Homo sapiens: one gene and its partner. The protein of the gene in region 2 purifies or fractionates together with the protein of the main gene of each other region. This does not show direct contact. Each region holds a gene or a part of one and is shown on either strand. Other genes may lie near its edges.

Region 1 (3,500 bases), about 15 Mb from region 2:
GCTTAAGGAACAGGATTGGCGCCAACGTTGTGACTTAGTAGAGAAGAGAGGCCTGACTCAAGTTTGGTGGAGGAGAGAATCTTTGTCATCCTTGCAGATGGGGGAGAAGGGGGAGAGAGTAGGTGGGACTGCAGTTATTTAACTGTGATTTTCATTCTGACTTATCTGCATTACTTCTGTGACCCTCCATAATTGACTGTGTTTCCTACTGACCATGTAAGGAGAGCAGATGCCCTTAATTATGGTGCAAAAGATGCAGGATTGAACCTAATTATACAACATAATGTTATGGCAAAGAGTTGAGGAGCCTTTCCCAAGTTGTTTTTTTAGATAAGTGGTTTTCACTAGCTTTCCAGTTTGGTACTACAGTAGATACTTTGCAAATTATTAGCTTAAGAACGGTATAGCATTTGATTTGTTTGGCCCATCTCCCATATACCATATAGTGATAGGATTATCCCTATTTATACTTTATTAGAGGCATTAAAAATTGCTAAATGCAATAGTCATTTGTTGAGCTAGTCCTGTGTGTAGGTTCTCTATTAAGCACTTTATGTATAAGGATTTAATGAGATGAATGCAACGTAGGTAAGTTATTTGTTCAAAGTAACAAAGCTTTTTAAGTGGCAGATCTTGGATTCATATCCAGTTCTGTGGAACGCCTACCTTTGGTGGTTTTTCACTGTGTCTAATGAAATACTTAAAACATTTTTAACCATGAGATACTCATTATAGGAAATTCAGATAATATAGACTAGTAAAAGATATGAAGAACAGAGTGAAAAATGTTTGTTAATTCATTAGCCACTGTTAGTATTTTAGATTTGGTCTCTCAGATTTTTTATATAGGTATTTTTTTAAAAAAAATAAAAGCTGATCATATGTTTACATGTCTTATAACATGTCTCCTTCACTTAAGAATATAAAATGGTCCCCTCTTCAACGTATATTATTTTCTTTTTTCTTTTTCTTTTCTTTTTTTTTTTTTGAGACGGAGTTTCGCTCTTGTTGCCCAGGCTGGAGTGCAGTGGTACGATCTCGGCTTACTGCAACCTCTGCCTCCTGGGTTCAAGTGATTCTCCTGCCTCAGCCTCCTGAGAAGCTGGGATTACAGGCGCCCACCACCACACCCAGGTAATTTTTTTGTATTTTTAGTAGAGATGAGGTTTCCTCATGTTGGCCACACTGGTCTTAAACTCCTGACCTCAGGTGATCCACCTGCCTCAGCCTCCCAAAATGTAGGGATGACAGGCGTGAGCCACCGCACCCGGCCTCCAACATATATTCTTATATGTCGACTGCCTAATATTCCATTGAAGGGCTTCCCATTCATGAATCTCCCATTGAACATTTAGATTTACTTTTAGGCTTTTAGTGAATATCTTCATATGTTTTCTTCAGCTCATTCAGTTGTTTCCTTATGATTAATTTCTAGACATGGAAAGCTTGGTTAGAAGCTATGCACATTCACAACTGTGATACATATCAGATTGGTTGTATCAATTCACACTGCAGCCAGCAGTGTCTACCACTTTAGTATTAAGCCTTTAATATTTGTCAGTGATCTGATAGATGAAATATACTTCATTGTAATCTGTTTGATTATTGAAGAAAATGAATAAACAGATGTATATACTTATATGTTATAGATATTTATTAGCCATTTAAATATCTTTTTGTTGTTGTTGTTGTTTTTTGAGACAGAGTCTTGCTCTGTCCTGCAGGCTGGAGTGCAATGGCACAATCTTGGCTCACTGCAACCTCCGCCTCCCGGGTGCAAGCAGTTCTCCTGCCTCTGCCTCCTGAGTAGCTGGGATTACAGGCATGCGCCACCATGCCTGGCTAATTTTGTATTTTTAGTACAGATGGGGTTTCTCCATGTTGGTCAGGCTGGTCTCAAGCTCCCAACCTCAGGTGATCCGCCCACCTCGGCCTCCCAAAGTGCTGGGATTACAGGAGTGAGCCACCGCACCTGACCCATTTAGAGATCTTTTTACGGTTTTCCTGTTTATATTCATTTTTCTGTTGAGATAATGTTTCATATTTATAAGAGCTCTTTATATTTTAAGGCTGTTCACCCTTGGCCTATTATGTTGTGATATTTTTTCTAACATGTTCATTTTTTAACTTCATTTTTTTTCTTTGCAATGCAAAATTTAATATTTGGGTGGTCATACCTAATCTCCTCTATGGCTTCTATTTCATATCAGGCTTAGAACATGTAAAGTACTAGAATAACCATCCTACTCCTTTTAGCTACTTACTGCCCTTGGTTGCAACTCATAGAAATGCCTTTGAGCTAACTTTGGGGTGGTGGGGGGAAGGAAATGGTGATTAGATACCAACTGTCTTATAGAACCCAAGTATAGGAATAACTTGGATTTTACAAGGGACTGGAACCCTGAACTAGAAAGCTATTCAGCAACAAAGTGGCCATTCTTTCAGTCTTTCACCAGGGCACGGGTGACTTCTCCATGCCACCAACAAGCAACCAGACCACATCAACTGTGGCTTCAATTCCAATTTTGAATTTTTGGGAGAGAGACTCCAATAGGTTCAGTTTGTCTCAGATGTCCACCTTCTCCACAGGTGATTATGGCTGCCAGGACCCACCCCTGAAAATGGGCAGTTCTTTAAAAAGGAGGTGGTGGTAGTTAGGGCTGGGCAGATAGTTTCGAAGATTCTACTACTATAGATAACTCAGTCAACAAATATTTGAGTACCTTATTTGTTTCAGGCACATATTAGAAGACAGATGAAATGACCAAATAGACAAATGTGTCAACAGGCAAATAGTGTTTGTGTCTGAATGTGCCTGCTGCCCTGCCTTGCAGACCTTGGGGAGCTGTCTAGGCTAGGAATTCAAAACTGCCCCAAAAATGCCATAGAAGGGATAAAGACTCAGGCCAGCTTTGGAACTAAATATGGCTATATGGCTTGAAGGTTTGTACCAATAAATGAGTATTACATGTTAATATAAGATGATGTAGCTCTTCAGCCACAGGGGTATAAACCTGGCTAGCATGACACACCAGAGCTCTGCTCATTGTTGTTTGTTCATTTGTTTGTTTTTTTGAGATAGTCTCGCTCTGTCACCCAGGTTGAAGTGCAGTGGCACAATCTTGGCTCACTACAACACCTGCCTCCCCAGTTCCAGCAATTCTCATGCCTCAGCCTCCCGAGTAGCTATGACTACAGGCACATGCCACCACGCCTGGCTAATTTTTGTATTTTTAGTAGGGACGAGTTTCCTCATGTTGCCCAGGCTGGTCTTGAACTCCTGGCCTCAAGTAATGCACCCACCTTGGCCTCCCAAAATGCTGGGATTGCAGGTGTGAGTCACTGTACCCCACCTGCTCCCTGTTATTTTATTTCTTTTGCTCATCTCATTTGTCTAGGCAGGTAGGGTAATGACAGACATATTTGGTGAATGGATGTTTATTTTATAAAACAAAAGTTCAACTTCTATAGTTTCCCCTTTTTTAATTAGTCTAAGATAT
Region 2 (4,246 bases):
ATAAGCCTTTATGGAGTTAAGCCCCGAGATACTGGTTTTGCTAGCCTACTCCAATTAACGCACCTTATATTTACCACCAGTGGTAGCATAAGTGAAAAGAACCCCTGGACTTAGTTCCAGGACCCGGGATAAAAATTCTGGCTCTACTACTACCCCGACATATCCCATGATCTGCTCCTAGAATATGCTCTATACTCTTCCCAACTGCGTGTCTACTGCATTTTCCTCTTTCATTAGACAGCCCTCCTGACTCTTCTCTGCCTCACGATTTCTGTCAGAGTGGGGGGCCTTCTCTGACCTCCGTCCCATACGTGGTCACTTCTCTTTGCTTCAAGTGCAGCGTACGTTCCTCTGTTTTAGAATCTACGTTTTTATTGCAAATATTTGTTGACATGTGCTTCCCCAGACTGTGAATCCTTTAACTCCCAGCATTTAGTTACAGTGTCTGGCACACGTAGAAAATAAATATGCATTAAACGAATGATTGTCACATATGACCTTAAGTGAGTCAATTATTTTTTAAGTCTACTAAATAAAATTTTTGAAAATTGTTGTAATGATGAAATAAGGAATGTGAATGTGACTTGTAGGTTATAAACAGATTCTAACAGCAATGGGTTTACTCACTGTTTGTAGGCCCTTCTCATCTTTTCTAGTCAAATCCATCTTAATGCTGCAAGGTAGCACTATCCAATAGAAATATAATGCAAGCCATATTTATAGCCACATTTAAAAAGTTAAAACCAGGTGAAATTAATTTTAATATATTTAACCCAATATACCCAAAATATCACTTTTTAAATTAAATCTTCTAAATCTTGGAACACATCTCTATTCAGACCAGCCACATTTCGAGAGCTCAGGTGTCACCTGCGGCTACGGCTCCCGCAAATGGGACAGCAGCCGCAAGGCCAACTTCAGATAGCAACCTGACTTCCCCTCAGGCAGAATAAGTGACTCCTCCTCAGTGCTCTCTCAAGCCCTTTATCCTATCGTGAAAACTAGAGGGTACGCTCCTTGAGGAATTCCAGACTGTTGTCTGGAGAAATCGCTCTCGGCCTCGGTCTGGCCTGTAACGGGCGGTTACGCAATTCCAGGTAATTGACGAACCCTGAGGACAGAACTCCGTGGGAGGCCCAGTAGCCAGAGCGGAAAATGGTCAGTCAGGCAAGAGTGCGGGCAAGTGGCCACAGCAGGCTGCGATTCCGGCGCCCGCCGCCCTCCAAGCGTCTCGGGCCGCACCCTCCCCACAGCGGCGGGCGCGGAGGTCCCGGGTTCGCGTTTGGGGGCGCCTGAGCCGCAGCCCCGCCCCCTCCCGTCCCTCCCTCCCTCCCTCCCTCCCACTCCTCTCCCTCCCACTCCTCTCCCTCCCACTCCCCGCACCTCCGCCGCCGCAGAGCCCCGGAAGCGGGCGGGGATTTCCTGTGCCCGCCCCGCCCCGCCCGCGCCTGCCGGGCCGCCGTCTCCGCCTGTCGCTGGCTCCGCCGGCCGCCGGCTCCCAGACGCAAGCGGAGGGCGGAGGGGAGGGGCAGGCGGCGCCCGGGAGGGAGGCACCGGGCCGCGGGCCAAGCCTACCGGGGGTGAGTGGAGCCGGGCCGGAGGGAGCTGCGGCTGGAGGGAGGGACGCCTGGCTTCCCGGGGCGGCTGGTGGGGGCTCGGTCACCCATAGGGGCTGGGAGGAGGATCGGCGCGTCTTCCGGGTTGCTGCCTTTCCCGGGGGTCTGCCCCGCTGACATTCTGTGCCCGCCTCTCGCCCTGTCTCCCCGTGCCCATCGCAACTGTCAGGCCCTGCGGGCTCCCGCCGCTGTCACTCGCGCACAGGTTACCCCGTGGCTCCCTTTCTCTTCACTTGCTCATGCCCCAGCTCATGGGAAACCTGTTTTCTGACCTCACTTCCCCTGCTCCAGTTCTGCCTTGCTCGGATTCTCTGAAATCTGACCCTTTCCAGGGGCACTGTGACAAGAAGAAGGGAAGAAGCAACCTTACCCCTGAGCAGGCTCCCGTCCCGCCCATGCCCTACCCGTGGCAGGGGCCAGGGTTCTCTGATGGACGGAGCCAACTCGTCCGTGTGCCCTTGGGCTACTCATTTTTATAACATGGCCCCTTTTCTGTTCATCAGCACTGGCTGCAGAAACTTCCTTTTGCAGGTCCCTTGCTACCCATATGTGTGAAGAAAAGGGGGAAATGAAAGCCCTAGAACCCACACTGCAGTGGGCATGGGATCATCCTGGAACCAGGAGAAACGAGGTTAGGGCTACCACCTTAACCGCCCAGGTGCTGGCTCTGCGTGAATATCTTAGGAAATGCAAGCTGAGGACAGGTACCCATCCCATCCTTTGCTGAGATTTTTGCTAGCACTTCCACGGATTTCTGTCAGTGGTATAGAAAAACTTACAGCTGGCCCAATGGGCTCTGCACAAAGAGGCTTCCCATTAAGAGACTCTGCTACCTGGGGGAGATGGAGAAAGGGTTTGAGACAAGTGTCCAGATATGTAGCTAGAGGTAAAGCCTTCAGGGAGGATTTGCACAGGAGCTAGAGAACCAGAAAGATGGGACGAAGAGGGAGAATTAGTGCCCTGTGTGTTAAAAGTGGATACAGAGCTGGAATTCAGAGAAGAGAGCTAAAATGGAAGTTTCCCTTTATTGCTTTAGCAAGAATTTTCCTTTCTCATGAAAAGTCTCTGAAAAGGAAACCTCCTAGGCTGGGAATCAGTCCAGGGTGCTCCCATGAGGCCCTGAGCCATCTTTGGACTTCTGAGATAAAAAGGGAATTTGTTTTTCCTGTGCATTGGGCTTAGGGTTCCCACCTACCTCTTTTGTCAAAGACAAATAGGCAAGAAAATAGACGACTTGACATCTGTGATTACCTACCCTGGCCTTCAAGGTTCTTGCAAGTGTTATTGAAAGGATGTAAGTAAGCCAGGATAGTTACCAAGTTTCTGACTGCTCTTGGAAGCCTTTCACTGACTCTGACTGTTTGGATATTGAATAAGAATACCCAAAATATGTTGCCAAACAGAAAGAGATTCTGAGTCTCAGATTATTTCTCTGCCATAAAGCCCTATCACAACAGAAGTGTGACCCATCCTGCTCTTAAGTTGTCTAAAGAAAAAGAAGAGCCCACTATCTGGTATTGTACACTGCAGGATTATTAAGAATTAAAAAAAAATAACCTAAATCTCTTCTCTTGCAATCAAGACCCATTTTTTTCTGTTTGACCTATATAGAGATAGAAGGGACCTCTGTTTTTATTCATTAGTAGCATCATTCATCAGCCTTCTTCTCCAGACAGAGAAAACTACATCCGACATTTTTAACTTTCCCAGTGGCTGTATTTCCAATCCCTTTCTTGACTTTGATGTTTTCTGATGAACACACACTGGCTTCACCATACGCTTCTTTCAAACTGAATATATTTTTCTAATGAGATCTGACTGGTGCCTGACAAATAAACAGGTTTGTTCTTCTGGGTCATGTTAGCAGCAGTTCTTCCCCCCTTTTCCAGCTCTGGTTCAAACTCTTTCTGTTCCTTTTTACTTTTCCTGATTAAACTTCAGCTCCTCACAGACCAACAATTTCTCTTACCTCTTAGGATTACTTTGGAGTCTTAACACCTGCTTTCCAAGTTATCAGTTTTTCTACCATATTTACTACCAGTTTTCATTGGATGGTAGACCAAGTGCCTTTTTATTGAGGCTTGTCCCAAGTGAGGTACCTTTTGGCCCAGCCTCATGATACAAATACGCCCCTTGGTTGGGACTTTTACCTATAGTAATCATTTCATTCTAAACTGATGAGACTGTGATTTGTGGCAGAAAATCTTCTGTGTGATTACATCCATCTTGTTGAGTGCAGGTCTATATGTATTTCTTCCTGTATGTTTCCAAATTGCTTACTTTCCTGTACTTCATGTGCTTGAAATTAAATGGATAGCCTTTGAATTTCCAGGACAGTTCTTTTTTTTTAAATGAACTTCTTCTAACCTTCAGGTATATTCTGTTTCTATAATGAGGTCCACAAAATACCAGTTAGTGGCTTTGCTACGTAGCACCTGCCAATTTCTTAGTTCCTCCAAGAAGCTTGGTGCAGGCTCCGTTGATCGGAACACATCAAGCTTTTAAAGTTCATCTTCCAGCAAGCTCCTCCTATCTAGTTTTGTCTATTATCCCTGGGCCTGTTCTTCATAACTCCCTTAGAAATATCACTCCTTTCCCATTTTCATGGGCATTGCTGATATGAATTTGTT

Evidence for each region. The genes of interacting proteins can lie anywhere in the genome.
Region 1: the proteins of ZNF641 (region 2) and PPM1H purify together in Homo sapiens (affinity purification with mass spectrometry; one large-scale study listed by BioGRID and IntAct). This does not show direct contact.

Annotation. Positions count from the first base shown.
Region 1 is NC_000012.12:62,925,151-62,928,650, reverse strand, and holds part of PPM1H (protein phosphatase 1H), read left to right. Parts: intron 1-3,500. UniProt on the Homo sapiens protein: Dephosphorylates CDKN1B at 'Thr-187', thus removing a signal for proteasomal degradation.
Region 2 is NC_000012.12:48,348,120-48,352,365, reverse strand, and holds the start of ZNF641 (zinc finger protein 641), read left to right. Parts: upstream 1-1,446; 5' UTR 1,447-1,580; intron 1,581-1,649; exon of another isoform or gene 1,650-2,303; coding exon of another isoform or gene 2,304-2,320; intron 2,321-4,246. UniProt on the Homo sapiens protein: Transcriptional activator. Activates transcriptional activities of SRE and AP-1.